7 separate regions of the Homo sapiens genome follow, and regions 1, 2, 3, 4, 5 and 6 are each reported to be linked to region 7. Evidence: microRNA targets listed by miRTarBase, many of them from high-throughput screens and not tested one by one. Region 7 holds a microRNA gene; each other region holds the end of a gene's coding sequence.
The links. The annotated mature microRNA hsa-miR-548g-5p reads UGCAAAAGUAAUUGCAGUUUUUG and lies in region 7 at 2,462-2,484, shown strand. An mRNA with a match to its seed (bases 2 to 7 or 8) in the 3' UTR can be bound and repressed. Matches are read on the target gene's strand: a 7mer-m8 pairs with bases 2 to 8, a 7mer-A1 pairs with bases 2 to 7 and ends in A, and an 8mer does both.

Region 1 (4,309 bases), not on the chromosome of region 7:
TGAAATAGCTCTGTCTGTCCCTACTACTGTTTACTGACATTTTCTACATTTTAGCATCAGACCAAGTTTTAGAAATTTTTATAACTTGATTATCTTCTCCTTCCACCAAGCTGCCAAATGACTTGTTTATTTTGCCTCTCAGTTTGTCCAGATAAAGTTTATGGCTCACACAAATCTAGCCAGGTACATACCAGTAACTCCAAAGGGGGAAAGAGGTGAGTAAAAAAAGAAAAGCTGGAAGTCTTTTAATGTTAACATTTTATTTAAACCAGTACAAGCACCATGCTTAACAAAAGACTGTCCAAAATAAACATGCAATATGAACTAGCAGAGACTGAAACCACAGCTTAAGGAGTTGTGTCAGTTGTTGGTTTTGTTAAACGATGACAGAGAACTGTTAAAATTCACAAGACTAAACCATTAATGTTTCAAGCCTCCTGAATGAGATTATCTTGGACCATCTAAATCAGTGGGAACTGCCCTGGCATGTTAATGATCTCAAACAATATTCAAGTAATTATATTTATATGAATTATAATCCAAAAAGCAATAAAATACAATTTCTATCACAAGTTTACTGTATATGAGCACTGATTTGAAATGTCAAATGGCATAATAAAAACAAATTTCTCAAGAATATTCAGCTTGGGAGCATTGGTTTTAAGCGGTCTAGAAGATTACTACATTCTTCCAGAAATACAAAATAAGATTTGTCCAGAAATGTTTGAAACACATCCTCACAAAAGTTGTAATGGCTCAAACTCTATAAATTCCAGTATTATCAGTCTATTGAACAAATAGGGAAAGCAACCATAGTAAGAATACTTGAATTGATAGAATATGAGTTACTCTCTACTTCCACCAAATATCAGCATTTAAACTCTTATGAAAATATCTATTCATCACTAGTCCACATATGGATTAATGACATTGCTCAGGTTTTAAAAGCAGTCCAAACATTTTTTAAGTACACCTTCCTTAATATCTATATGGGTTGGGGGGAACAGCCAAATTTAATTTGGCAATAAACTCCCCTAACTGGAAATTTTTAGCTAAAGTGTCAGACAAGGATACAGTTTATGGCTACATTTGACTCCTGAAAATAGGAGATAAAAAAGGAGGGAAAAGTGCTGACACACATTTTGCCACACAGATTATTTAGTAATGACAGTAAAAAATTTAGCAACACACACTTAAACAAGAGTATGTTTAACTGCACTAGGCATTTAGTAAACTTTTAGAACTAGACAATTTGAACATTTTAGAAGTCAATTAAACAAAAACAGTCAACCAACTTTTTTCCTAATATAATTGCGTCAATACCAGAACAAAGTGATCACTATTCAAAACTCAGACATTTTGGAATTTCAGCATAGTAACCTGAGAAGTTTTCTTCGTATGTATTTTTGTTGTCATGGAAACCACACTAAATAATACTGTGATTACCAGTTGGTTCTATTTTGACATTAGATGCTATGCAGAACTTATGCAGGGCCAAAAATTTCAAAACTAACACTGACTTAGAAGACCACGAAGGAGGATCCCAGGAAAAAAGTTGCTGCTAAAAAGGACTCAGATTTAAGGCTGAATGGGAATGGTTGTACCAGAAAGATAACGGAATGTAAAAACTGGAATTATGAAATCTGGAGTTATTATTTGGGAAATGGCAGAAAAAAAGACAGTAAATACGAAACATACTTGAAAAGAACAATGCAAAATTTAGTAAGATGAAAGGGAAATCTATATAAATGTTTGAGAACATTTTAGAGCACGGGATTTGTAAATTTCCCCATAGGACAGATGGAATAAAAATGTCCTACTGATCCTCTAACCTCAATCTGTTGTCTTGCCAAAAACATGTTATTAATTAGGAGTCAGACAAGCTCAAAAAAGCATGGTTTATCACAGCTCTTTGCTCCTGTTAAAGACAGTAGCGGAACTAAGAGTGCTAACGTATGGCAGGTCAATATTATCTGACATTATGGAGGACCTCCAAATTTAAAAATAAGCAAAACTAAAACATGCAAGACAAAATAAGGAACTTCATTAAAAAATACATTCTTGCAGCACTAGTTTCTCTTACTGCTGCAAAACAGGTGAAACAAAACCTCATTTCCTTCATTCAAAAACATTAAAAACACTCTCCACTCACTTGGATTACATGTGCATTCCTACAGAATTATATGCATGTTATTCTCCAATATCAAAATACCTGTTTAAAGAATTTTTAAACTTCCTGGGTGAGTTTTCTCTTCTCTCTGGAAATTGGAATAAAGAATCTTTTCCCTCCAAGAACCAAAACAAACACCTACTCTAGCACTTCCTCATCTCCAACTTTCTATTGCTTCCTGACTTCTAAATTAGTGAAGCCAAACAGTGTTGGGAACAGAAGATGTTCTATTCAATATCGCAAAAATTCCAACTATCTTTACTTCTCACAGAAACCTCAAAAATAAAATGCAAAGAACATATGAATGGAAAACATGCCAAAATTTAAATTTTGCTAGTTTTGAGATGACTAAGATATTCTTAATATAAGAATACACTCACCAAGTTTGGTTAGTTTTTAGAGTCTCTAGACCTATTATCAAATTAATGTTCAATGGTTACTTATGTATTTGTTTTTACAAGTATGCCAAATATCAGAATCCTCGCTTTATGCCAAGAGTACCATCATCTAACAAGACTGGTTTAGTTAACTATTCAGGCATCCAGTTCAGAATATCTTCTGACATTTAGGATATAAGATGTGATTGCTATTGAAGTGTTAATGTTATTAACTATGGCCAAAGTTTTAAGATAATTTTTTCCTATGGCACAAAACTAACCACAAGTATACCCAAAATTATAACTCTCGACTGCCATATATTCACCAATGCAAGCAGATAGTTGGAATTTTTAAAATATGAAGTTGATTTTATTACAAATTTCAGATATACACATTAGAAAATTATTTTATTTGGACCCTTTAAAAAAGTATTAATTTCACCAAATGTGGAATACTGGCAGTGTAAAAGTCTTAAACTAACTTTAAAGCTAACAAATCAAAGGCACAGTATTAACACATTTAAAATAATTAGTGTTCACAGGACATTGAGGTGCTTTATAAATAAAGTGTTATTAACCTAGATTCAAAACTGTCTAGAAATGACATAAAAGGAATGAAGCCCTTGATTATTACAACCCACCAATTTCTAAGACTAAGATGCTATAAGGAGAAAAGCTAACAGTCATAATTCTATCATAAAATCTAACTCCCGACCTTAAAAATGAGTGACTGATGAACATAGTTTCTAGACTTGATTAAAAAGATACAGGAAACCAAAGAAGATACAGAATTCATCAATGTACTTGTAATACAGGTTACACTAAATTATTCATGGCTCAATACTGGGTCACTCAAGTCTTTGACCCCAAATGAATTTCAATGATTTGACAAGTGATAATACGCTATTTTCATAAATAAACTGCTAATATCCAGTATTTGTCAAAAGGAGGCAACTGTTGTCTCTCACAATCTAATATATCCACTTTCCAATGGTGTCTGTAAATAGTAACAAATTCCGAACCATAAGTTATAGAAATTAGTCACAAGAGTGCAAAAAGTCCCTGGAGAAAAGTAGTCCACCTAACAATTACCAATATAAGGAAACACTTTACAAAGTTTCATTACTATGAAGATGATTTCCTCTTTGTTCAAATTTTGCACAAATGAAGAATTTTTCTTTACTGCAGGAAACAAACTGTAAGTAACAGTGCATTTTTAGGCATAAATAAGTATTTATGTCTGATTCCAGTATGGTCAGGTTAATACATAAATACTTTAGAAACACAGAAGTTCACATTAGTGAAAAAATCCAAGTTTCTCACGTAACCATTCTTCAGTTAGGTCTTCGGTATTTCTTATTTCAAATACCTTTAAAAAAAAAAAAAACTTGGGTCATACTTTGACACTCCAAAAAAAAAGTCAAATATTTGAATTTTTTAAAATATATTTGAGTATTATACACCAAACTATTTTTGGTTATATATTTGAGTATTAAATACCAAATTCTGCTTCCTTTCATATTGTTCATGACTTAACCTGTGTAAATGAGATATACCTTTTAGGTAGAACTTCACTTCTTTTAAATGCTAAGTACTCAGTTACCAAAGTACAGCAATCAAGACAACATGAAACCAAAACTCTCCCAAAAGCACAAATCTACAAATAGTCTAAAAGAGCAGTTCTGTAAATCTTATCTCCTAGAAGACATCCCAAGTAAACACAACTAAAATCAATCTAGTTAGGAACTGAGGAACATACGCT
Region 2 (4,309 bases), not on the chromosome of region 7:
TTCCTATTACTGGCTTTTTTTTTTTTTTTTGGCTGACATTTAACTTTTAGTGAAGAAACTGTAGGTTCTAATTTTTGTTTTAACTGAAAGCTATACAATCTTAGTCATAAGACATAAATTCACATATAGCCAATGTGATCAATTTAGCATAATTAACATTGAAAATATTACATTTATCCAAACTTCCAATATGTAGTACATATTTAATAATAAACATTCCATGTGTGTTTCATAAGTAAGGATTATTATGGTATCTCTCTACACTTTGAATAATTTTGGGGAAAATATGCATATGACCACAAGTCTAAAATTCATTATAGATAAAACATTCAAAAATATCCGAGTTTTTTAAAATTATGTTTTCAAACCTTTTGTAATTAATATGTTTTACTCAATCCATTTGGGCACATTAATTTTTCACAACTTGTGAACGATAGTAATCTCCAACTAATATCAGTTTCTTTAATTGAAAAATATATAAATCTAATATAAAGGCATTTTTTAATCTGTATAGCATTTTTTTAATCTCTACTTTGCTAACAAAGAGATAGGGGTGTGGGGGAAAAACATAATATAATTTAATGGAGTTTGCTCCTGTTAACCTAGACAAATAGTTATTGTAAATCAGATAGTAAAATCTGTTAGCTACAATAAGTAGTTTTGTTTGCCAGCTTAATTTTTAAATTGCCAATCTAATAACAACTTGTGGTTTAAGTTCTTTACATATTTTTTTCATGTATTTCACTTACTTTATATGGTTCAGGATTGAAATATTGTCCTATGAAAAATGATTATAGACTTTCTGGGTTATTTATAAGTTATATTAAATGAAAAATATTTTGTAAATATATTCTTGTTTTTATTTTGCAGGTAATACTAATAGAATTCTTACCAAAATATCCCATATTCCGACCTGACTGAGGAGTTTTATCCAGTCACTTCTGTGTTACCTGTCATTTCCTACCCTTAGTGCCTTGTAGATTTGGAATGAAGATGGTCTCCTTTGCTGTGTTCAACTTATTCTTTATAATGGTAGAATATTCTTCTCGCTCTTTTGTGTTGGTTTATGAAGAAAATTTGCACATCTTTTTTGTCTTTCAATGAGGCTTGTGTTTTGCACTCTCAATTTTAAATACACACACATGCGTGTGTGCATATACATATATAGATAGTTGCCATTAAAGATAAATCATCAGTGTTGGTGTTTAAAAAACAAAAACTTGTTCTGAGCATGCTGCCTTATAATTTTCATACTCATTGTTTCTAAACTCGCATCATTTTTCTAGGCTACTTGATGCTCTGTAATCCCTTACTGGACAAACTTAAATAAGCTTTTGGTAGCTTTTAGAAATGGTTTTACTCTGCTTTTAAAGGACATGCTTTTAAAGGACATGCAATTAATGGCACTGGTTTTGTCCTGCACTTTGCTTTATCACTTATGTTAGTGGATAAAATATTTAAACTCCTAAAGACTTGTAAATATTGCCTCTTTGCATAATGTAAAATGTGGTATGCCATGGTTTACATAATGTAACATTACTCTTATTGTATTGCCAACAATTTTACATAGATTTTAATATGAATGAAGTTTGCAAGCATCCCTTTGAATGTAGAAACTGCTAACATGCTGTTTTATGGCAAGGCCATAATGAGTATGTTAAGAATTTCAGGTGTAGGGCAAGGTTGCCCTTTGTAACAAGTGGACTAAAATTGAAATTATTATCTCAGATATTCTGTATTGCACCTGAAACCATGACCTTTATTTTTCCATTTCGTTTAATAATTTCCATTTTGTTGTCTACTCCTTCCCACAAAAAAACTATTTGACATCTGACACATTTCACAGTCTCACTATCCTGCATTTATTAGCCTTTTCTTCCTTTGAAAATACACACAATTATGACTTTTAAGGAGTATTTTGAGATTTCAGACATCTTCAGAAGGTATCTAGACCCTCTTGAAAGCCACTAACACCTTTCTGCAGTTCTGATATTCTAGTTTGAGAAAGAGAGAGAACTATTTGAGAAGCTGTAGCTAAAGAGTATATAGCAGCTGATTCATAATTGAAAAAAAATTCTCAATTCTGTTTTTGATGATCCTTTATAAAACATTAATGAGGAAAGACAAGTGTTTAGACAAAAGTATTTTAGTTTATAAATTCAGCACATATGTAACATTTATTTGGTCCATATTTCTCTATTTTTCTTCACAATTAAAATGATTGCTAGCACCACACAACTAGAATTTGAAAATTCAGTATAATGAAAGCTTTATATCACATTAATTCAACTGCAAATGTATGCCTGTTTGTAGGCATTATTTGTAATTCATAGTGCTAAAAATAAAAGTGTCTAGGGCTCAGTAATATTTTGTCATCTTACTCTTACTGCTTTTAGTAAACCTTTTAGGCAAGATTCATCTCAGTGAAGTGAACAATCATTTCTTCATAGAAGGTCAAGCCTTTTTAAGCCACTCTTAAAATTTATGCCTAATTTGAAATCCACAGTCCTTGACCAGTTTAAAAAAGAGAGGAAAAAGAAGACACTATTTTATATGTGATTATAATTGTTTGCACAAACACTTTTCCACCTTCCTCTGTGCCCCATTACCTCTGTGCCACTCAGTCACCCCAAATCTCTAACCTTTAGTAATGTGTATGCCTGCAAATATTATGTGTTTGCCTGCTGCAAAATTGAAGGTGTATTTTTATAGACAAGGTAGAAGCCTCTGAAAATGTATACCAAATGTCTTGTTTTGTAGCTAAGGTCGGGAAAAATTGTATCTGAGGTTTATGTTCCAGCTAATGTTATCAAATTTATGCTTCAAACTGTGATATTTTAATACCAAAATCGATTTTCAGCATAATACAAAATATCTCATTTTCACTGATAGAAAATTGCTTTTAAGTGTTGATCCTTAGAAATCTTATTTTTTTCTATAACCTTAGAATTTGATCATATGATGGTCATAGGAACTTTTTCTGCCATGTATAAATCACACTTGGTTTTGCTCAAAGAACAGCATGAAGTGGTGAATTGTTTCCATGAAACAATTATTGAGAATGGGAATACAGTATATCTGGAAATGACACAGTATAATACAAGTTACAGTAGCATTTGTCACAAAAACCACTTGTCAGCATGTGTAAACTTAATTTTAAAGCCTATTCTAATCACTCGAGTTTATTATTTTATTGTTCGCTATGCTGGTTGACTCATCTTAGTTTCTTCAACTACCCAAAAAAATACCAATTTTTTTCCTCTCTTGTATGACTACTTTTTCAAACTGTTTTCCTTTGCAGGGGGCTGATTAGCAATTGAGTATTTTGTAATGTTTGGGCGGGGTTGCTTTGTTTTCAGTGAAATTGGTTGCAGTGAATGCTAAAATGACACAGCACACTGGTGATTAATTCCTCCCCCATGGAGCCTTTTTTCTGTTATGCTTAGGATAGAACATACTTGTAATTTTCCATTAGGTTAGTAACATACTTTTGTGAAAGTTGTTTTTAGACTGAAGAAAGTAATTTTGAATTTCTTTGTTACATAATATTCCTTTATGAAACTTGTGATAGTTTCCAGAGCAAAACATGTATTTGCCAAAGTATATAAATCTCACAAGGCTTTAAGATTACAAGCTAAAATTGTTTTTTAAAATTAATGTTCCAATGTTTCTCATTTGGCCCAAGATTCTGGCTTCATAAATTTGTCCAACTGGCTATTTTTAAGCTTGTCCTAAAAGCCAATAACATGTTTATTCCTAATAACTAATATGGGCAAGTGTTATTTACAGATTTATTAACTCCATCCCAGATATGTCTCCACTCTTTGTTCCCTCCTAATGCTAATTTAGGAAAGAGACCACTGTAGTAAAACTTTAGAAGAAGATGGAGAAGTGCCTTGTCTTTTTAGAACAAAGATAACACATTACGTGTAAGGAAGCATAATAAATGAATTGGTAGATGATTAGATTAGAAATCATCCTTTTCAACTAGGTCTAAGAATACTTTACTAGTGTATTATCTTTTATTTATTATGTAAAGCTTCTTTCCTTCCTTTTCCCCAATCATGATATATTAGTGACAAAATATTACAGAACCGGACTATCAGTCACTTAAAAAAACAGTATAATTCTAATGCTAGTAAACATGTAATTTAATTTAGTTCTGGAAGGACAGTTGTCTTTGATTAAAGCCCCACCAAAACCCATTTAAGTATTTAATGTACATACTATTCATATTATTATGGCCTGTAAACACTAATATCTGAGCAATCAAACTGTTTTATCTACCATTTTTGATGAAATTTGAATA
Region 3 (4,309 bases), not on the chromosome of region 7:
CTCTCAGACAATAATGCAATCAAATTAGAACTCGAGATGAAGAAGTTCACTCAAAACCACACAACTACATAGAAATTGAAAAACCTGCTCTTGTATGACTCTTGGGTAAACAATGAAATTAAGGCAAACATCAAGAACTTCTTTGAAACTAATGAGAACAAAGACACAACATGCCAGAATCCCTGGGACACAGCTAAAGCAATGTTAAGAGGGAAATTTATAGCACTAAATGCCCATATCAAAAAGTTAGAAAGTTAATAACCTAATATCACAACTAAAAGAACTAGAGAACTAAGAGCAAATAAACCCCAAAGCTAGCAGAAGAAAAGAAATAACCAAGATCAGAGCAGAATCGAAGGACACAGAGACACGAAAAACCTTAAAAATATCAACAAATCCTGGAGGTGGATTTTTGAAAAAAATAATAAAATAGATAGATCACTAGCTAGACTAATAAAGAAGAAAAGAGAAGATTCAAATAGACACAATCAGAAATGATAAGGGGGATATCACCACTGACCCCACGAAATACAAACAACCATCAGAGAATACTATAAACACCTCTGTGCACATAAACTAGAAAATCTAGAAGAAATGGATAAATATGCCCTGGACATATACGCCCTCCCAAGAAAGAATCAGGAAGAAATGGAATCCCTGAATAGACAAATAATGAGTTCTGAAGTTGAGGCAGTAATAAATAGCCTGCCCACCAAAAAAATCCCAGGACCAGATGGAGTCACAGCTTAATTCTACCAGAGGTACAAAGAAGAGTTGGTACCATTCCTACTAAAACTATTCCAAAAAATTGAAAAGAAGCAACTCCTCCTTAACTCATTCTGTAAGGCTAGCATCATTTTGATACCAAAACCTGGCAGATACAACAAAAAAGAAAACTTCAGGCCAATATTCTTGATGAACATTGATGCAAAAATCCTTAACAAAATACTGGCAAACCGAATCAAGTGACACATCAAAAAGCTTATCCACCACAATCAAGTAAACTTCATCCCTAGGATGCAAGCTTGGTTCCACATACGCAAATCAATAAAAGTGATTCATCACATAAACAGAACTAAAGACAAAAACCACATGATTATCTCAATAGATGCAAATTTTCAGAGGCTTAAAGTATTTATCTATATAATTGGGAATGTAGACTGTCCTGGATTTACAACTGTCCGACTTACAATTTTTCCACTTTGCAATGACTTAAAAGCAATGCAAATCCAGTAGAAGCCATACTTCAAGTACACATATAACTGAATTATTCATTCAGTTTCAGTCCAGCATTCCATAAATTTCATGAGACAGTCAACACCTCATTATAAAATCAGCCTTGTGTTAGATGATTTTGCCCAACTGCAGGCTAACATAAGTTTTCTGGGCATGTTTAAGTTACTCCAGGCTCAGCTATGATGTTTGGTAGGTTAGGTGTATTAAATGCATTTTCCACTTAATATATTCTCATCCTGCAATGTGATTATTGGGATGTCACCCCATCATAAGTCGAGATACATCTGTACATGCTTCTACTTGCTTTTTTTCTTAATTTTGAAGAAGGCTCAATAATTTCTGTGCTGGGTCCTAAGCACATATGGAATGGTGATCAGATTAAAAATTATCACTCATAAAAGACTGAGAAAAATTTCCTCTTATTCTCATTGGTTTTCTGAGCTTCCTTCCGCCCAAGAAAAGCAATAAATGCACTGAGAAAGAGTGTTCACAGGTGTTATAGGGGGAGAAGTGGGAGGTGGGACACATATGTAGCTGCCTCCTCAAGCAATTGGAGACATTGTCTCATTCCTGCGCAGCCCTGGGTCATGAGAGTGTGGTCCCATTCCATGCAGACCTGAGACTAGGATGGCTCACTAAGGCCTGGGACTGAGCCCTGAGTGCCACCATCACTGCTGGGCTGCAGAAATCATTCAGGTGGCTGAGTAGGGGACAGAAGACATGGTATTCCCACCCACAAATGGACCATGTGGACTCAGGAAGCCCGTATGTTCTTCCAAATGGTGGCTGTAGCTCCCCATCCCTCTGCAGCATCATAGTGAGGAGAGGAGGTGGCTCCTCCTACCAAACAAAGAAAGCACATCCTGAGATTGAATTTTCCAATCTTCAGGCAAGTGGGGGCTCAGAGTCAGAGTTCATTTGATTTACAAAAATACAGAAATGTGATATTTCTTGGAACCAAAGCTATGGAAACTCATGTGAACACATTCACGATTTATTAAGCTTAAATCATCTTTATTCAGCTCAGGAGTGGGGTGGCTGGAAGCATAAGCTTCAGGTCCAGGAAGATGGGTTTGGATCCAGCCTCTGCCACTTGCTCTCTGGAATAATACTCAAAACATTTAACTCCTCCAAGCTTCAGTGTCCTTATAAAAAATGAGGAAACAATACTGGTCCCGTGACATTGTGTAAAGATTGAATAGTACATAATATGCTGTATTAGAAGTGCTTGTCAAGGTTCTTGGCAAATGATAGGTGCTCAGTCAATAGCCTCTGTGTATAGTAACAGTTCTGGTAGTAATTTTGGTAGCTGGGGGGATGGTAATAACTGTGACAGCAACAAGTATCTTATTCCCATTTCACAGATGAAGACATAAGCTCTGGGAAAAAAAAATCTTCAACTGTCACTGATTACCTTGCCCACCCCACGACATATCCTAAGACCTGGCACGTGATAATTTTAATGAAATATCTGGGTGAATGGATTAATGAAAGGAGAAAGCAGAGCCAGTGGTGTGGGGGGTGGTGTGAATGCCCACTGAAATCTGAAGTAGGGTGCAGATTTGTTCATCAGTTGAAAGTTACTCGGGTCACATCTGAAGGCGGCTCTAGGTCACCCTAGAGGCCTAGGCTGGCTGTCTTCAGGTCAGGGGGCTGAGTTGCCATTCAAAGACTCAAAGGAGTGAATCGTACACATCAATCATGGGGTTGGCTTGGCCACCACCCTGCTGGAACACTACCTGGCCTTCTAACCTCATGGAGAGCCTGACCAGGCCTGCCACAGAGACCTCAGAGTGCCAGAGAATCTCCACTGTGTCCTTAGCTCTGCACAGTCAGGGCTTCCCCGAAGTCTGCCTCTCTCTGTCATTATGCTTGGCCAGGATTGCTCATCCTGATGGCACTGGGTTGCAGAGAGAGAGCTGAGGGGACCAGGAGGCAGGCACTTTGTGTGACTTTGGAGGGTCCTTCTACCCCAAGACCTCACTGCTGCCATCTGTAAGTGAAGGAACTGGACCAGATGGGGAATAAGGAGGGCTCCATCTCATGTCGAAGGCCAAGGCTAAGAGTGGCTGCCTGGGGTGCAGTGCTGGGAGAGTTTGCAAGGGGAGTGTCAAGGCTGGTCAGTGATTATGGGGAAGAGTCAGGGCCCATCAGAGGAATGAAGTGGCTAAGGGTGCCTCCAGTCCCAATAGCCACAAGTGAATTCTGTTGAAAGGGAGTTCTAGCATCTCACAGACCAAGTGGAGCCTCAGGATGGAGGCCGAAGGCCAGAGAGCGTCCTCCCTGTCCCATGGCCTAAATGCCTCTCAGAACTCACAGATGGTCAGTCGGGAGTACAGGCAGTTCCTGTCATTCCACTGCCCATCTGTGTACATCTCCACACACTGCTCTTTTCCCCGACCTGCGGGCTCCCCTCGGTACCAGTTGGTGTAGTTTACAGGGGTCCCGTCTGAGTAGCGGAAGTCTCCAGGGCTGGGACCCTCAGTCAGGCCTACATAGGCATATGTGTTGTACTTCTTCACGAAGCTTGCAATGGCCTCATTTTCCTCTGGATTCCTTGGGACAGCAATGCGGCCGCCTGCTCTGGCACATGCCTCCTGAATGGCATCAAAAGTGATGGACTGCCCATTGCTGGAGAAGACCTTCTCTCCTACTGTCATTATGGAGCCCTGCAGACTGAGGGCTGAGAGCAGAGGAGTCCGGGTCAGGCCACTGACCACTTTGTCTCTAAGCCACCTCCCTCACCTGGGGTCTCTGCTACCAGATTCTCCCCAGTCTCTCCATCTCTGCCTCTCTCTGTGTCTTCTCTTCCTCTTCCAATTGCAGTTTTCTAAATTCACTTTTAGACTCTCCTCCATTTATTCATTCACCTAAGTAACAATTACTTATTGCCAGAAATGGTGCAATTTCCTGGAATTCAGTGGAAAGCAAGGCAGGTGGAGAACTTGCTTTCCTATGAAATGGGGAGTGAATTGTGTCTGCTTCTGTCTCCTCTGGGCCATTCAAAGACATCAGAAAAGCAAGCGTCATTCCTTTCCCCAAGACCTGCATGTGCATGCCTATTTGTAATCTC
Region 4 (4,309 bases), not on the chromosome of region 7:
AATTTTTAAAATAAAATGCCACAATATAGTGTCATTACTTCCAGCATACATTTAAATTTCTTAATTTTTAAAAGATAGACTGGGTGATATGCATACAAACTTTCCTATAAAATCACCATCCAGGAGAGGATTCTGACATGCTATTAGGCAACAGACTCAAAGCAGTGTTATTGCTTTATCAAGGAGGAGATTAACTGTGAGGGAAAAAAAATTAAATATCCAGGTCCGGTACATGATCAAACTGTATTACACCTTGAAAATCTTGAGTCACCTTCAGCAGATCATTAACATAGATGGTACAGAAATTAAGAATTCATGGTATGAATTAAGAATCTGTTTTAACTAAGGGAGTTGGGTGCGTGGATTTTTTATAAAACTACTCACTGATCCGATGCTGAGTATGCAAATAAGCAGTGCTGATTTTGACAAGAAATGAGATTTTTATATTTCACATGTTGTACATGAATGGGGGTGGATATGGGACGTAAAAGCCAAGGGAGACGGGGCCACAGCATCTACTCCCATTTTGGATAGTAAGAGACCATTTAATAACATACAGTAGGCCACAATCCAAGGGCATAGTTGGAAGACCTGAATCTATTATCTTATTAACACTAATCACTAATAATTACATGGCAGGATACCTGCTGAGGTAATTGATAAATCTACAATTTGCACACTTATAAACCTTTTACTTCTATTTAAAAGCATTATTTATTTCAATTAACTAAAAATTCCAAAACTTATCACAAAAAATGAGACAACTGACTTAGCATTACCTAAAATTCCCTTATGTTAAGATACAGAAGTCAGAAAGTACCAACTTGTTGATCCAAAAATAATAATTTCAATAGTGGATCCAATGCCTTATCATTTCTCTGTAGTAATGGTTTGATGTTTCCATATAGAGCACGACCTACAATCTAACCATACTTTAGAACTTTCACATGCTTTGCCTCATAAAGCAATTCCTTCACTCAGTGAATTGGCTGAGCCAAGTGCTGAAAACACAAATTTAGGTCAGCGGAACAGACTGAGCAACACTTTGTTCTTAGTTTTCTGATGGAAGAAGTAAATTGAAGTACAGCAAAAACTTTAAAAGCTTTTAAGAAAACATTATTATGTGGACTTTTCTCCAAATCTTCTAAAATACTGCCATTTAAAAAACAAATACAAATGTGAGAGAGTATAAAAACAAACTGCCTTCAGGGACTGACAGATACAATTTTGTCTTTTTAAAACATAAACTAATAGGAAAACATATATCTAAATATCAATTTAAGTTTTTATACTTTTTAACCATAGGTATATTAGAGCTGAAAAAATCAGCTTAGAAACACAACGATCAGTGTGCAAGAAAAAAGCTTTAATAAAAAATCTAAAGTGAATACCTTAATTTAATGGTGGTATGTTGATAGCTATTAATAGTAATTCCTCAGCAGTATACATTATCTTAACAGAAGTGGAGGCTATTAAATGTTGACAAAAAAGTGGCTTTTAAATTGCTTTAACCAATCTTAAAACCAAAAAAACCTAAAAACTCTATCTAACATGTAATTTTAAGGAAACACAATTATTTTTTAAGGCCCCAAATACTGAAAAATATTTACTTAAAATGTTTCTCCCCTCAGTTGGCAGAATCTATTTATGACTCATTATCTACAATTTTTTTAAAAGGATCCATTTGAAGAGCAATACAAAATATTAGAACTCAAAGGCCTGACAAAATGAAGTTATACTGCTGCTATTCCTCACTTTCCAAAAATGTGCCCTTAGATATATGTCTACTTACAAACTGAAATCATGGATTTTGTGAAAAAAGAGGGAAATTGGCATAGGCATAAGTATTTTTAAATAATTTTCTCCCTCTTATTAAAAAACATTTTTAGGAATTTAAAATTTGAGTAAAATGTTTCAACAGTTTGGTATATTTTCAACGGCTTAAATTATTTTTTAAAAATTGAAAGAAAAGTGAAAAGGAAGCCAGGAATAAAGTAAATCAATAGTAATAATAAAATCAATACTCTTTAAATACACAACCAGAAAGCCTGAATCATATTCCTGTTTACCCCCACCCCTTGTTAAGAAAAGAAAAACAACCCAAAGGAATTTGTATAATAATTTCTTTAGAGCACTTTATTTGATTCAATATGCATTAAAAAATATTGACCTCTTAGACAATTACGTGAAATAATTTTCTGAGTAGTCTACTCTCTGAACTGCTTAAATGAATTTTTAAAAAGGCAAATAAATGATTTGCCACAAATCTGCTGACTTCTGAAAAATATCTAACAGCAAATTCTTCTATTTTGGTCTCTGAATATTCTAATGTGTCCATACAAAAGTAGGACTAAAATCTTTAATCAAACAAAAGAGAAGCCTGTAACAGTGTAGAACACACATTTTGAATCTGAGCATCACAAATGAAGAAAAGAAAAATGAACCAGAGCCAAGTTGGTTTATCGGCCTCGGGTGCTGTAATTGGGGTGGTAAAGGTGGGTTTACTCCAGTAACCATTCAAGTGGGGATTGGCTCATTTTCAGGATTTACTTACAGGTCTCTTCTAAGTCCTTTAAGCCCCCAGTCCATGCAAATGTCCCACTTGGTGGACAGATGAGTAATCTAACCCCACCGGGTTTATTTCAATATTTCGATATTTCAATAATAAGCTGCTTCTGAAGATTTTTTGAGAAGTCTGTTCTCTATTAAAATAAGATAGAACCTCAAAATATGAATGTGAACATTAGAAATAGACAGCATATATTACAAATCCATTCTTGATAGGAACATTAGTAAGAATACACATTAGCTTAAAAAACAGGCTCAGCAAATGTTGCTGATCTGCCAAAAGTTTTAGTTCACTATTTACAAATAAGACAAAGTGAAATACAGAAAATTTTACACATTTGGTAGTTGACAGATACTGTTTGCCAATAGTGGTCTATCAGAAAACTGACATGAAGGAAGACTGGAAAAGAGCCAGTTGTCACCTTCTCAAATTTAAATGTACAGAAAACTAGATTAATTTTGAAACAAACATTCTGCCTTTCATGGGAATAACTGTATGATCACATGATTTGATTGGGAAGTACAATTGTGAGGAAGTGTTTTCTGGAAACAACTACTATAACTCTAAATAATCCACTAATGAAAAGTTACCATTTTTGTTTCAGTAGACCATTGAAGTTGATTAAATGATAACTAGTGGTAGTGTTTCCTAAACCCTAAGTATGAGTAGAAAATAAAACCATTGCTGAGTTCTTTATATCAATTTAAAAACTAAGACCCAACAGCATAAAAATGAGAAAAAACATAATGGCATGATTCAATGCAAATCTGCACTGACATTAAAGTAGAATCTGAGCTACTTGGGTTTTTAACTAGAAAACAACCTGATATGTATGTGTGTGAAGGGGGAGGGTTAAAAGTTGTTTTAATAACTGTGCGACCTAGTCCAAAAAGAAAATTTATCAAGTGACACGAGTCTCAAGTATTTACTCGTATACCAAGTATCCTGCACCAATCAATAGCACACAATCATCAATATTTGCCATTTCTAACAATCAGAGAATCATCTCCATTAGAACAGAAATCCTCAAATCATTTCACTTTTGCTTTTTGCTTTGAAACTTGCAAACAGACTTCTCTCCCCCTTTCTTGACAAGAATGTGTTTCTGTCCATTATTTCAATCTAATACTGTGTAAAAGCTATCAGCTTCTTCAAGGAGGTGCCCACTGTAGGCAGGATATTCCAGCAACACTTAAAAGTTTTCTGGGTTTTTTGTGTTTTTTTTTTTTTTTTCGTTTTTTTTTTTTTAAACAATTGATTTAAATCCATGTCATTTTACTTTATATGTACTGGTCTCTCATCTGACTTTAGGCGTTTTCTGCGGGGCTGTATAAAGTCTTCATCAGAGTCCTCAGTTACCTCACCATCATCCTCTTCCTGCTCAAACTCTGGCAAAGGTGCGAAGGTCCTGTCTGAGTAGATCTCTGTGAGTTTATCTTCAAAGTACAATGCAACTGCTTTCCCTGCCTGAGCTACTTCTGAATCAGCCTGCAAGCAAAAGATAGGAATATTCACCTATTGGTAATGCATATTCCTTCACCAAGTTTGCATGGTCTGAAAAGCTTACCTTCAAATTAATCTCTTGTGTGTCTGCATAAACTTGAACAACTTTCATCATCTAAAAAGGATACCAGAGTCAAAAAAAAAAAAGGGAAATTATAATCCTTTCTAAAGTTATGAGACTGCATAGGATTGGCGACGAAAAGTCAGCCATACTAGGGAGAACAAATTGCTATAACC
Region 5 (4,257 bases), not on the chromosome of region 7:
GCATCTCCTGTGGCCTTCAGTTAGTAGTGCCAGTTAATATTGTTTCTGAAAACTTTCCTCTCAAAGTGCTGGCTATAATTTTTTCTCCATCCAGTACACATAAGAAAAGGATTTAGTAACACTTGGGCAAGTAATAAACTGTAGAACTTTAAAAGTAGTAAAGGCATATACCAAGCATACGTGACTCCACACATTGTCAGAAAGGCAGTGGACTGGCTAACGAGTTTCTGCCAAGTTTCAGAAGCAAAGAATGCACTAATGAAAAGGGTAAGGCATCCAAGCAGAGTGTCTGAATTGATGGACCACTTTTGTCTAAAACTAATTTCAACATCTTCCAATATGCAAGCAGGCATTTGTTTTACATAAGGTGAAACACTTTATAAGAGAAAAGAAAACTCCTATAAAGCTTATAAGATCAGAAAAAATTAATACTGAATTTTTATAATCAATGCATGGAGCAATGATATAAACTGACCATAACAATTTTGTGAGAACAAGTATAAAACTATCCATTACTACCTTAAAGAGTTGAAAGTTAAGCCCTCTAAAGTATTCAAAGTGGAATAAATAACAAGGTAGGAAATGCAATACCTATATATTTTAAAAAGCCCACATCTAGTTAATGTTCTCTTAGTTTGTTTTAAATCAGTTGTTCATCCAACCTGGAGTTGATTTAAGGATGTTGGTAAAAATCTTCAAAAGTCCTTCAAATCATTTTAGATGAAATGTGATAGAAAAAACTATACAACTCATTCTCTAATCTTGCTATTTTTCACACCATCCTTCCAAAAAAGAAAAGAAAAAAAACTAGATAAATTCTTCCACCGGAGTAACTGACATTAAGTGGCCACTATTCCTGTAGTAATCATTTGTAAGAATCTAAAAGTCTTGCAGTAGGGGACGAAAAATGATTATAAATATTTTAATAGGCTCATGCCTCATCTTCAAAAGGGATGAAACTTGGATAGTAGCAGATTCAGAGATTTATAATTTTCAAATTTACAACTAATAGACAGACACACTTTTGCAAGGATCTGTCCAACACATACAACTAACATCTAAATTAAGGCTTTTACTGGTATGTGATCAGGTCTAAGGGTATGCAATGCTGGATTTCCATTTAGCATCTCCAGCTTTCATTGTTACCCAACTTGTAAACCAGAAGATGTGCTGATGTACAGGGTAGGAGCTCCAATGGCTAACCATTCACCAACTGGAAGGCTTGTTTGTAAACAGGTTCTGAAACAAGAGTTGGCAGTGAAACAACTGAGGAGGTGCCTCAGATCATGCAAAGGGGAAAAGTGATTTGCACCTGCTGACATGATGGACATTAAAAAAAAAAAAAAGCCAATAGTTGACCTTCAGTTCAAGATTTCAAGATTTACAGACCTAAAAGTTTAGAACTACATCCAAGCCAATGGTTCTCATACTTTAGCTTGCAGAAAGTCACCTACAAGAAACCTGTGAAAATGCAGATACTTGGGCCCTATACCTAGAGATTCTAACTCAGGTGATCCAAATGGTCCAAGCACCTTTTGCTTTTGAGAAACCTTGCTCATAGCAAATAGCAGCACACAGTCTTTGATTAAAAGGCCAAGATGTCCAAGAAATAACACCAATGAGTTCATTACCTATAGACGAACCACTCAGGAGACTCTATCATAATAATATGATGCCTGAATTTATCCCCAATTAAGTTTCCCTTTCCTTTTTTCAATTAAAAAGTTTGAAATAAATTAACGTTTAATAATGATTGTACCAATTCTGAGGTAAAAAAAGAGCACCAGGGATCTCAATGCTAAAAGAAACAGAATTCCTTAGGAGGTCCATGCTACATAGAACCAAAATTTCTGCGGTAATGTTATAGAGTTGTAGTGCAAAAGGGACTTGTTTCAGTCTTTGTATAGTCTGTATACTTCTGTATACATTTAGTATATTATCTAATCTTTCCAGTTAATGTTTTAGAACTCCAAAGAGAAAAGTTAATCTACATGCTCTCTCAAGTTTTCTAGATAACCAACATTTTTCTGGTTTACAGTGATACACAACAAAGTTATTCATTTATTTTTCTGGATGCTGGAGACAAACATCTTTATTAAAGACACTACCAAAATTTTGGCAAACATTTCAAAACAGATTTGTAAACATAATGCTTCCCTTTTCAACTGGCAGCACTTTGAAAAGACAATACAATAAGACAATACAACTTGAATCAACATTAATTCAAAATCCTTATATTTTTGACCACATAACTTATGTTCCCACATGATAAAACAAGTGACAGTTTAAATCAATGTCAACAGATAAACTCCATGAAATGAAAGTTTGTGCTGTTTGATGAATCACAGTATGTTATGGTTAAATATATCCACTCTTTTTTATATTCCTGGCACCAGGATGAAAAAAAAAATCTTTAAATATACCTCTTATGTAGGTAATAGCTTCTTTGCATATCTCTCTTCAAAAAATACTTTATAGCAGTATATAAATAGGTTACCTACACATTTCATTTTATAATTTTGTCCCAAAACTATAGATCTGTTTCATTTTCATGACATATCAATTTTTGCCCAACATTAATAAAGCTGACAAACTCGTTGAAATGGAAATGCTTTTGTCTTCCACAACAAAAGTAGCAATTTGATAGAAGAAAAAAAACAAAAAAACAAAAAAACACCCTACAGTAACACTCGTCAGTTGTTTAACCTGAGCGTTTGGCCTACTAGGAGTAGCAGCTTTTTTTCCTTCATGCACGCTCACATCCACACCACCTCTGCACACATACAGATCGAGCACACACTTCCAGATGCTGGTAGGCCACAGTATGCTTCCCATTGCTCTAATCAAGTGGGAAGCAGTGTAGCTAATGATTAACCACACTATGTACACAACTAGCAAACACCTTAAGGCAACCATTGCAATGGGGGGTTAACTTGCAGGGCGGATTTAATGTTCTAGATCAAGTCAGCCTGTATATACATATGTGTATGTGAATCTATACACATACACCTTTCTATTTTTTAACCCTCCAAGACAATGTTTATTTTTTTAATTTTGTGCAAATTTCTAAATATTCTACCATTTAAGGCAAAGAGTTTGCATTAAGAAACGTCAGAAAATAGGCTTACGTTTATCCAAAAGCATTTCACCTTGCACATTACTGTTGTTGTTTTTTAAACACATACAACTTTTAAGTGTGGACACTGGATCCCCAATATCTAAAAAATCATTTCTAATAACAAACACAAGTTTTTGAGGAAAAAAAACTGATTTGAAATATAGACAATGGATCCCCAATACCTAAAAAAATTATTTCTATTAACAAACACAAGTCTTGGGGGTGGGGTGGTGGGGAGGACCAGAAAGAGCAGCTTCGAAATGCAGGGAAGCAAAGTAAAATGGAAAAGAAAAAGTAACTCAAGTTTACTAATACTGAAACTTTCAACAGCCAAAGTTTCACCTTTTTAGAATCTAGAGCAACTCATTTGGAATTTTAAATAAATAAGCTTAAGTTTATTCACATCTTCTGGTCCAAGCAGAGTTCTAGGACCATGACTCTGCTTGCTGTTGGTCAAATTCACCTATTAGCCTTTTGATGTGAGCCAGCTTGTTATGAAGATATTCACATCTGTATTTTTCTTCATGGTAATTGGGACTAGACTGCAGATGAAAAAAAAAAAAAAAAAAGAGGAATGAGATTGCAGAATTTACAACATTTTTCAACCACAGGTCAGAAAATCAACAGTGATGATACCTACCTGCTTTATCTTCTGATATTCTTGTAAGACTTCTTCATGAACATTCTACAAAATTAAATATTAGAAATCAGAAGAGAACAACTTCTTTTGTGTGTGGCAATACAAATAGATAACATGCATTCAGCAAGAGTATAGGAAATATTGACTGTGGGAATGTAACTTGAAACAATCTTTATGGAAGGCAATGTGGCAACAGCTATCAAAATAGTAAATGCAAAATCGACTCAGCAATTCTACTTATCCTATGGACACACTTGCTCCCCAGTGAATGACACATATACAAGATTATTCACTGTAGTGCTGTTTGTAAAGCAAAAGACAGTAAACAAAATTGAAATGTCCATCAATCTATACAAAGGATACTAAGAGGCCATTAAAACATGCCAAAGTGTTTTATGTACCAATATAAAAAAATTCTCTAAGATGCATTATATTGTTTAGTGAAGAAAGCAAAGTGCTGAACAATATGGACAGCTTGATACCATTAGTTTAAAAGAGA
Region 6 (4,309 bases), not on the chromosome of region 7:
CACGCTTCAGAGGCACTGTGAGTGGTGGGTGGCAGGGCAGCACACAAAGGCTGAACAGTGCCACGGAACTGATGGTTGGAGACACCACTCCCTACTCATGCCCTTGGGTGACCTTCGCCATCCTGAAGCTCTGCAGTTCTGGGTAAGGGAGGGGCGTGCAAGACCTGCAAAAGTGGGGCCCTTCGTCAGAATATACTTCCTGGTACACGAGGAGGAGGCCGAAAAGTTGATTTGAGATTTTATATATATAGTAGTACTTTTAATAGTTTTATCTCAAAAAGGAAAGAAGAAAAAATTGATTTGAAATAAAAAAAGCAACACTTGAACTAGGCCTTTGTATTCAAGAGGCAGGCAGGAATACCCACAGTGTGTAACTTGGTTAGCTAGAACTGCTCACTGGCAAAAAAGAGAGCGAGTCTGCCTTTAAAAAATACTGTGTGTCCTGTGAGGTTCATTTGTTCACCTAATAGGTCAAAGATACATGAAGAGCTTGGCTGAGATGATCTGTTTGCTACCAGGGCGAGTATCACAGAAATGATTGGACTTACTTTTGAACTTGCACTGCTAGGATCCCGCTGTGCTGTTCAGCATTTGGGCTATCAAACTGAATGGGCTAATCAAATACAATTCTCCAGCCCATAAGCATTGTTCTAAAGTATTCATTATTAAATGATATGCTGTGAGAACAATTGACAGTTTATTTTATTAGGCCATGGCCTAGGGGAAGGGGGCCAGGGGACTCCTTAAGACAGCCTACCATGTGTCACCAATTCTGAAAGATTTTCCTTCTAGTAATGAATACACTCAATGGGACTGGGCGGTGAGGGAAAGGCAAAATAAAACCAGCCTCCATTCAGCCTCTAGCCCTCAGGGGAAACGAAATCAAATATATAGTTAAGGTACCATTCCTTAAAAAAATCCCATCAGCATCTAATGGGTTTAATTCATCCACAGGAAGATTAATTGCTTAAAATTCTATATTTCCCTTCTGCTCTGGTTCTCAGTTTTAAAAGGGGAGATAAAATGAAAACAGGATTTACTTTTTTGTTCCTTAAAAATTGAACTTTGATTTTAATCTATCAGTCCAAATACATTCAACAATAGCAACCCTCTGTTCAATCTTCTGGATATTAAAAAAAAATCCAAGTGCACTGCCATCCATTTGAAGTAGTAAGTCACAGGTAAATCATATCCTATCATTAATGAAATGAAATGGGGACGAAAAGTGGCAGAAAAGGAATACGGGAGACTCCCTCCAACAGGTCTAATGTGTTTTCTAGGAGAAAGAATATTCATGTGTTAAACTCTCAAAAGTGTTAAACATCCAACATCCCCTATGTGGACATTTCAACAAATATTTTTGCCAAATATGAGACAGGCTCACTCTCCACTGTGGATCTGGAACTTTCAAGAAAAACTATCACCAAGCCAAGTCTGCCTTTTTAAGCCAAGTCTGCCTCCAGGAGAATTTGTTGTGTTTGCTTGTTCTTACTATTGTGTTGTTATGAAAACCAGTAATGAGTTCAGCTTGCAACCCAGGTGGGAAGTTAGAGAGGGGAACCTGTGTAAGTTGAAGTTTGTCACAGTAGGCAGAACAGTCGCTTTGCAGCCCAGGCCCATCTCAGGGTGCACTGCTTCACAGCTACACTGCAAAGTGTTAAAAATCCTCCCACCCACCCCAGAATATATATATATGTATATTAAAAAAAATCCCCTGTCCATCTCTCAGTACACAAAAGGACCTCATCACACTGCAAAAATAGCAGTACCCACTTTGGTCAATTAAAACAAACAAACAAACAAAAAAGCATACATTATTTTTTTTTTAAATCTGTGTACTTACCTATAATAACCAATACAGCTAAAAGCACTACCTACATAGGCAAAACTTGGTATTGCATAATTCGTATAAATTTGAAACCCCTCCCCCCCAAATATTAATTGGAAGATGAAAAACATGAAAGGTTAATAGAAAAAAACACCAAAATACTGAAAATATTGCTGGTCGATTACAATTTTTAAGCGGCAACTATACACAGCCATGATATGCTTTATAAATGTGAGATAAAGGTATAACTGTCTAAAAAATCCATGATGTCACACATTTTTCTTCGTCTGGAGTACAAAATATTTTGTCATAAAAATGGTAAAGATTTAAAATGATAATAAATGCAGCAAAACAAGTGTAGTGATGTCACTTTGTTGTATTTTTTTGTTTTTTTTTTTTTGTTTTTTGTTTTTTAGATTTCAAGGCAAGGCACGTAATGTGGACATTATATCTTCGTGCAAATTAGGATTACTGGAAAGAGTATTTTTAATTAAAATTTTAAGAGACATAGAGGCAAAATGTGTCTGCCCATGCACACTATGGATCTGTCAATACAAGAAATTTGTTGAACAAGGCTAATGTCTGAAAGCACCATGCAAGTTTTCAGCACCCTGATTACATTTGTTTTCTCAAGAGTGCGTTTTTATATCCTACACCCTGGCGTTCCCAGTTTGTAAACTGTAAGCTTTACCCTTGTGACATGGATTTGCCTGCCTCTTTGTCTCTATAATGCAGATTTTATAGAACCTTTTGTACACCCTATGGGTTCTTGATGCAACCAGTAATTTTAAATAAATAAATTCTACCTCCAAGGAGGCTGCAGCTAAACCAACATAAGTGCTGTGTTTTCATTAATTTTATTTTTCTCAAGCACATGATTTGTCTTGATTTAATGCCTTTTTAATGCCCTCAAAAACTGAGGGGAAAATAAATTCGTTCAAAATTATTTTAAATTCTTTTTAATCCCCTCAATTTAGAGTCCAAGGGCTGAAGGACTTATAATCATGATTCCCCTTTAGATATAAATTTATAAATTGCACTTGCCTCTGTTAAGTGTTTCTTTTGTGGGGAAAATATTATATTAATTTTTACTGTTGCATGCAGAGAGAACACTTCACCTACATAGAGGCATTTCTTCCATAGAGCCTTTGTGTTCAAACTGTTTTTTTCCTTTTTTCTTTTTTTCCTTTTTTTTTCATTTTTTCTTTTTTTAAGATTTCAAACTGGGTTACACACTGGAAAAGGCTGGGTTAAGGGCCGAAATTTAATAAATCTGTACTGATAACTAAAGGCTACAGAGATTTCATATATTTTTTTTAACTTTTAGAAATCAGAGTGCTTATAAAATGGCTGGCTCATGGCTCTGTCACCCAGCACCTCTGACGCCGCCTCCTAGCCTTCGTTGGTGAGATAACCAGGAATAGTGATTCCATGCGTAAACAACAAGAATACTAAACCAATAAAACTAGCTTATCATGCAAATATTAAGGCATCTAGAAAGTCAGTTAAAATATATTGTCATAGAGACAGAACATCTATTTCCCAGCGGACTTCATGTAACAAAGGCTACGTTGCAGGGGCTGCGATCTACCATCAGTGAAATATCATCGACCCTTTTTATGTCATTACAGTTTCAACCTTAAGGGAATTAGTGATTGTAAGTGCTGCAATTGCTGGTCTATTATCTTCTTTCTTCAGTTTCTTTCCTTTCTGCCTTTGTGTTGTTTTGTCCAGTCTTCCTCTTTTCCTTTTTTTTTATTTAAAAAAAAAATTTCTTAAACTATTGTTGTGTTTCTTTTTCCCTCAGTTGCTTGTTTCTGCTTGAAGGAAAGGTTCTCCAATTATGTTCAAACCGTAATTTTGGACATTGGCCGGTAAGATGGGTGTCCTATTTGACACTTGGAAAGGAACCAAGCTAGCCCAGGTACCAGGACTGTTGAGAGGAGAGAGGCAGCAGGGAGGGAAGAAAAAAGAAAAAAATACAATGTTAAAATCTACAACAATATGAGAAATATAAATTCCAGATGCATCAAATTATTGCTATCCCTATTTTCAAAATTACAGTCTAATATGAGATAAATGTGCCAAATTATACATGTTACACCTATCTAAACTCTATAGTCTATTTTTTAAATGAAAATTAAGACTAAAGTGAGGCAGAAAAATCCAGAGTAAGATATATAAACAATTATTGAATTCTAACCGATTGAGGATATTCTAAAATATTTTACATTAATCAATATAAATGCAATATCATTCTTTTTTGTACAGGAAAAAAAAGAAAAAGAAAAGCAGCAATCTGTTGGTACCAATATACTTTGCCAGTTACATTCTAATCTTATTTTACCTTTAATTCACAAGCAATTCAGTGGTCAGATGGGTTTCAATTTCTTACCTGCCTATTGGGTTGAATACAATTGAAAAGTACGGTGAAAGATATTTCTTTTCTCCTTACAACAGGAAAAAAAACTACATGTTTAA
Region 7 (4,309 bases):
ATGTTAACCTCATCAGACAGCAACATCCAGACTGGTGTATTTAGATTAGTGTTTAACAGAAGTGGATACCATAGCCTAGGCAAGTTGACACACAAAAACTAACCATCACAATGTATGAAATATTCAGTATGGGTGTCTATTTTTATTTTTTCTTTTGGTGTATTTTTAATATTTAGGGAAGTTTATAATTTTGCTCTAGAAATTGCATGAATGATTTTACGTTTGTAAAATATCCTTTTTCTTCAATTCTTTTAAACACCATGAACATGAAGTTGTATAGTTTTCCTTTCCCCTTTCCAGGATACCATCACCCACATTTAATAGATATCAATAACTTTCGAGTGTTTTTCATTGTTTCCTTAAATAGACTTGATCTTTTACTATTTGATTTGTAGCTTTAAATAATACCCTTTGACATCTAGCAATTACGATGATGTAATCAGAAAACTAACTTTATTTTTTATCTTCTTATCAAAGCCATCTGTTCCGTTTTGTGTTAGATGAATTATTTCCACATTATCAGAGCATATACAATATATAATCTATTCTGTCAACTTTAGCCTTTCTTTCATTTATTTGTTAAATAGCAATTACTCCTTTCCACCTGGAGTTCATCCCCTCATAATGTTGTCAAGGAGGCTTCCGCAAACAGTATTCACAAAGTTTCTTGCATGTTCAAAATGTGTTTTGTTTTTAAACTTCAAGAGCACCTGCTTTGTCTGACTCTTTCTTTCCTAAATTATCATAGATTTTTCTACACTCTCTCTCCTGGGTAGAATGTGGTTGTGGTTGTGACTATTTCACATTATAAAATGATGACTGTATAAATTATTATACAAACTAGAAGGGGTTTTGGAGTGAAATGGGTCAATATCATGGTATAATAATTATACCAGCATCATAGGCATAAAATCTGACTGTTTTGCACCAACTGTAATAAATGGAGTTTTGTCCTGAGACCAGCATGATATGTGTTATTTTACATTATCCCTAGACAAGTTGATAACCACATGGGGAAATGAGACAGGACATGAGAGGAGTCCAAAAATGAGTATGATAATAGAAAAGTCCTGCAAAGAACAGCTTTTACTCAATCCTTCAAAAATAGTCTATTCCTGATTAGAGAAAAAGCGCTTGGAGTATTTAAGCCTCTACACACATCTCTCAATGTTTAAGAGCTGTTAGCAGGAGAACAAAAGTTCGGAGATAATAGTTCTCCAATTCTGTAGACAAATCTGATTCTGGCTACTTGTGCATAGTACATAGTACATGGTGCTAGAGAAGCAGGTACTTACTATGGGGAATAGAATTACATGGGGACTTTATGCAAACAAATGTTTAAGGAATCTGATATGATATGAGTGACACACTAACAGTACACCATAATGCAGGGGAGACTTACTAATATGGTTTGACTGCATCCCCACCCAAATCTCATCTTGAATTGTAGCTCCCATAATTCTCACGTGTTGTGGGAGGGACTCATGGCAGATAATTGAATCATGGAGATGGTTTCTCCTATACTGTTCTCCTGTTAGTGAATAAGTCTCACGAGATCTGAAGATTTATTTCCTCTTTCACTTGTCTGCCAAGACAATGTAGACTTGTCTGTCTACATTCTCTCTTGTCTGCCACCATGTAAGACGTGCCTTTAGCCTTCTCCATGTTCGTGAGTCCTCCCTAGCCACCTGGAACTGTGAGTCCATTAAACCTCTTCTTTTTTATAAAGTACACAGTCTTGGGTATGTCTTTATCAGCAGTATGAAAACTGACTAATACACTTCACTGTCAATCTCTAATTTTCAAATTGTGGCTAGTTACAATTTCTAGGGGAAAAAGTTATACGAAAAGTGTTAGTGGCAGGAAAAAAAGACTCCATCACTTGTTAGTCCAAAGGCCTTAATTGGTATTTTTATCTTACTCCTCTTCCATCTATTCTTGTATACCTCTTGTATATGAGCATGTGCAGACATGTTATAAGTTAAGGTTTCTTTTTTGTCTTTAAATATACTTACATTCCCTCTGGGATAAAATTGTTTAAAAGACTATAATTTTTCTCATTGAATAACCATGGAAATACTTTCAAAAATTTAAGCACATAAAAAATGACATGTTTCTGGATTTTCTATTCTGTTCCATTATCTATACATCCAGTTGTAAACCTCAGCCATACTACCTCTATGACTGGTGCCTAAAAGGAGTATATAGGGAGTCTTGGAAGAAAAAGGTGCTGCTCATCTAATTTTGTTCTTCTTCCTAGAAATCATTTTGTATATAATATGTCCTTTGGATTTCCATATAAAATTTAGAATTAGCTTAACAATTTCTACAAAGAACTTTGCTACAATTGTTTTTTAAATATGCATTGAACATATAGATCAATTTGGGGAGAGATACTATCATAACAACATTAAGCCTTCCAATCTGTAATCACATTATACATTGCAATATATTAGGTTAGTGCAAAAGTAATTGCAGTTTTTGCGTTACTTTCAATCGTAAAAACTGCAATTACTTTCACACCAATCTTAATATTTCGATCTTGTTTTATTTTTCTCAGCAAAGTTTTGAAGATTTCAGTAAACAGGTATGGCATACATTATGCTAAGTTTATTCCTGTGTTCATGTTTTTAACGTTGTTACTAATGGCATGTGTTGTATTAATTTTTATCTTTCTCATATTGCATTGGCAAGAATGTTGATGCAATATTGAATTTCAGTGGTTAGACTGGATATCTCTACTTTGTTCTAGAACTTAGAAGGAAATAATTCGTTTTGTTCATGTAGGGCCAGCTTCATGCACTGTACCTTGTACAGTCATACAAGATTTCATGCTCAGAAGTGCCCTGTTTTTGATTTAACACTCTCTTATTACTGCCTTAAATTTTTAAATAATTTTACCTCTGTGTTTTAAAAGTGCAGTATGATGGGACACTTGAGTACAAGTGTGAGCAGAGATGTCTGTGATATACATGTTCAGTTTCTTACTGTTCTATTCACATACAGCGTTTGTGATGCCACGTGAACGCAGAATTCTTGTGGACCCACAGTGCTTGAAAGTTCAGCAAGACTCTGAGTACAAGATAAGCATTTTATGTCTATAAATGAGTGAGCAAGGTTGACAACTCCAAGAGGCTACACTTTCCATTCAAAACCAGAACTCAATTCAATTGCAAACAAGCAGTGACTTTCCAATAAACACAAACAACCATGGAACCCTATTACATAATTTATTTTCTCTGTTACTTTACTGCATTATTTAACTACCTATGCTGAAAGTGACACAGAAGGAAAGGAAAAGAAAGAAGGAACAATAGTTCTTTTTTTTTGTCCTTGCTTATTACTTATTCCATCTATTTTTGTTGTTGCTTTTTACTTGCTCTTTGTCAGTCTTTTATTATTTTTGTATTTCATTTTAAATACTGTTAATCAACTATAACTATTTTTATGGTTGTTTTGTGTTCACAATATATATCCTTATGTTATTAGTTTATTTTAACATAATACTGTACCATATAAACACACAGTATAAGCAGCGTGTTATGTCCCAAAAACGGTTTCAGAAAATGAAAGGAAACTTCTACATTGGTAATCATTGTTTGATTATGTATACCTTAGCTTCCATCAAATAACAGCTTCCTTGCTTAAAAACTGTAATAGTTCATCTAGTTCAATTTAGTTAGTGATAAATTCCTCTAACTTTTGTTGTTGGGAAAAGTATCAGTTTTACCTTGATTTGTTGTAGATATTTTACTCTATATAAAATTCTAGATTGATGGTTATTTTTCCTTCCTACTTCAAAGATATTTTATTGTCTACTGCCTGGCATAGTTTCCTTTTTTTTCTTTCTTTTTGCTTTCTTTTCTTTTCTCTTCTTTCTTTCTTTTTTTTTTTTTTTGAGACAGAGTCTCAATCTCAGACAGGCTGAAGGGCAGCATCATGAACACAGCTCACTGCTTGACCTCTCACACTCAAGCCATCCTCCCACCTCAGCCTCCTGAGCAACCAAGACTACAGGCGCAAACCACAATGCCTGGCTATATATATAATTTTTTTTTTTTTTTTTTTTTTTTTTAGAGACTGGGACTCACTATATTGGCCAGGCTGGTCGCAAACACCTGGGGTCAAGCATTCCTCCTGTCTTGGCCTCCCAAAGTGCTGGGATTTCAGGCATGAGCCACCATGCCCCGTCCTGGCATACTTTCTAATGAGAAATCTGTGAACATAGTTATCTTTGATTTTCTATACACTATTACTAGATGTTCATCCACGGCATGTGTGGTTTACATTGTGCAACAGATTGAAGCAG

Region 1: the mRNA of GMFB is a reported target of hsa-miR-548g-5p. Seed matches in the 3' UTR shown: 7mer-A1 at 3,598-3,604, 7mer-A1 at 2,087-2,093 and 7mer-A1 at 1,712-1,718.
Region 2: the mRNA of CHIC1 is a reported target of hsa-miR-548g-5p. Seed matches in the 3' UTR shown: 7mer-A1 at 1,113-1,119.
Region 3: miRTarBase lists SFTPA1 as a target of hsa-miR-548g-5p. The part of its 3' UTR that is shown has no 7-base or 8-base seed match.
Region 4: the mRNA of TRIM33 is a reported target of hsa-miR-548g-5p. The part of its 3' UTR that is shown has no 7-base or 8-base seed match.
Region 5: miRTarBase lists ELL2 as a target of hsa-miR-548g-5p. Seed matches in the 3' UTR shown: 8mer at 1,876-1,883.
Region 6: miRTarBase lists NFIB as a target of hsa-miR-548g-5p. Seed matches in the 3' UTR shown: 7mer-A1 at 1,753-1,759 and 8mer at 166-173.

What each region holds. Positions count from the first base shown.
Region 1 is chr14:54,474,244-54,478,552 of GRCh38, forward strand. It overlaps GMFB (glia maturation factor beta), which reads right to left. Exons shown (of 7, transcript NM_004124.3): 7 at 242-3,916. The coding sequence ends at 3,845. Among named protein-coding and RNA genes, the nearest start is that of GMFB, 13 kb to the right of the region's middle.
Region 2 is chrX:73,680,085-73,684,393 of GRCh38, forward strand. CHIC1 (cysteine rich hydrophobic domain 1) reads left to right here. Exons shown (of 6, transcript NM_001039840.4): 6 at 871-4,309. The coding sequence ends at 921. Among named protein-coding and RNA genes, the nearest start is that of CHIC1, 120 kb to the left of the region's middle.
Region 3 is chr10:79,613,347-79,617,655 of GRCh38, reverse strand. It overlaps SFTPA1 (surfactant protein A1), which reads right to left. Exons shown (of 6, transcript NM_005411.5): 6 at 2,213-3,919. The coding sequence ends at 3,543. Among named protein-coding and RNA genes, the nearest start is that of SFTPA1, 4.6 kb to the right of the region's middle.
Region 4 is chr1:114,393,804-114,398,112 of GRCh38, forward strand. It overlaps TRIM33 (tripartite motif containing 33), which reads right to left. Exons shown (of 20, transcript NM_015906.4): 19 at 4,137-4,187; 20 at 1-4,057. The coding sequence ends at 3,845. Among named protein-coding and RNA genes, the nearest start is that of TRIM33, 120 kb to the right of the region's middle.
Region 5 is chr5:95,885,328-95,889,584 of GRCh38, forward strand. It overlaps ELL2 (elongation factor for RNA polymerase II 2), which reads right to left. Exons shown (of 12, transcript NM_012081.6): 11 at 3,759-3,803; 12 at 1-3,660. The coding sequence ends at 3,544. Among named protein-coding and RNA genes, the nearest start is that of LINC01554, 35 kb to the left of the region's middle.
Region 6 is chr9:14,084,566-14,088,874 of GRCh38, forward strand. It overlaps NFIB (nuclear factor I B), which reads right to left. Exons shown (of 11, transcript NM_001190737.2): 11 at 1-3,761. The coding sequence ends at 3,744. Among named protein-coding and RNA genes, the nearest start is that of LINC00583, 160 kb to the left of the region's middle.
Region 7 is chr21:18,684,310-18,688,618 of GRCh38, reverse strand. It overlaps MIR548X (microRNA 548x), which reads left to right and starts at 2,455; the gene lies at 2,455-2,529. The region is part of intron 2 of MIR548XHG (MIR548X host gene); the gene reads left to right.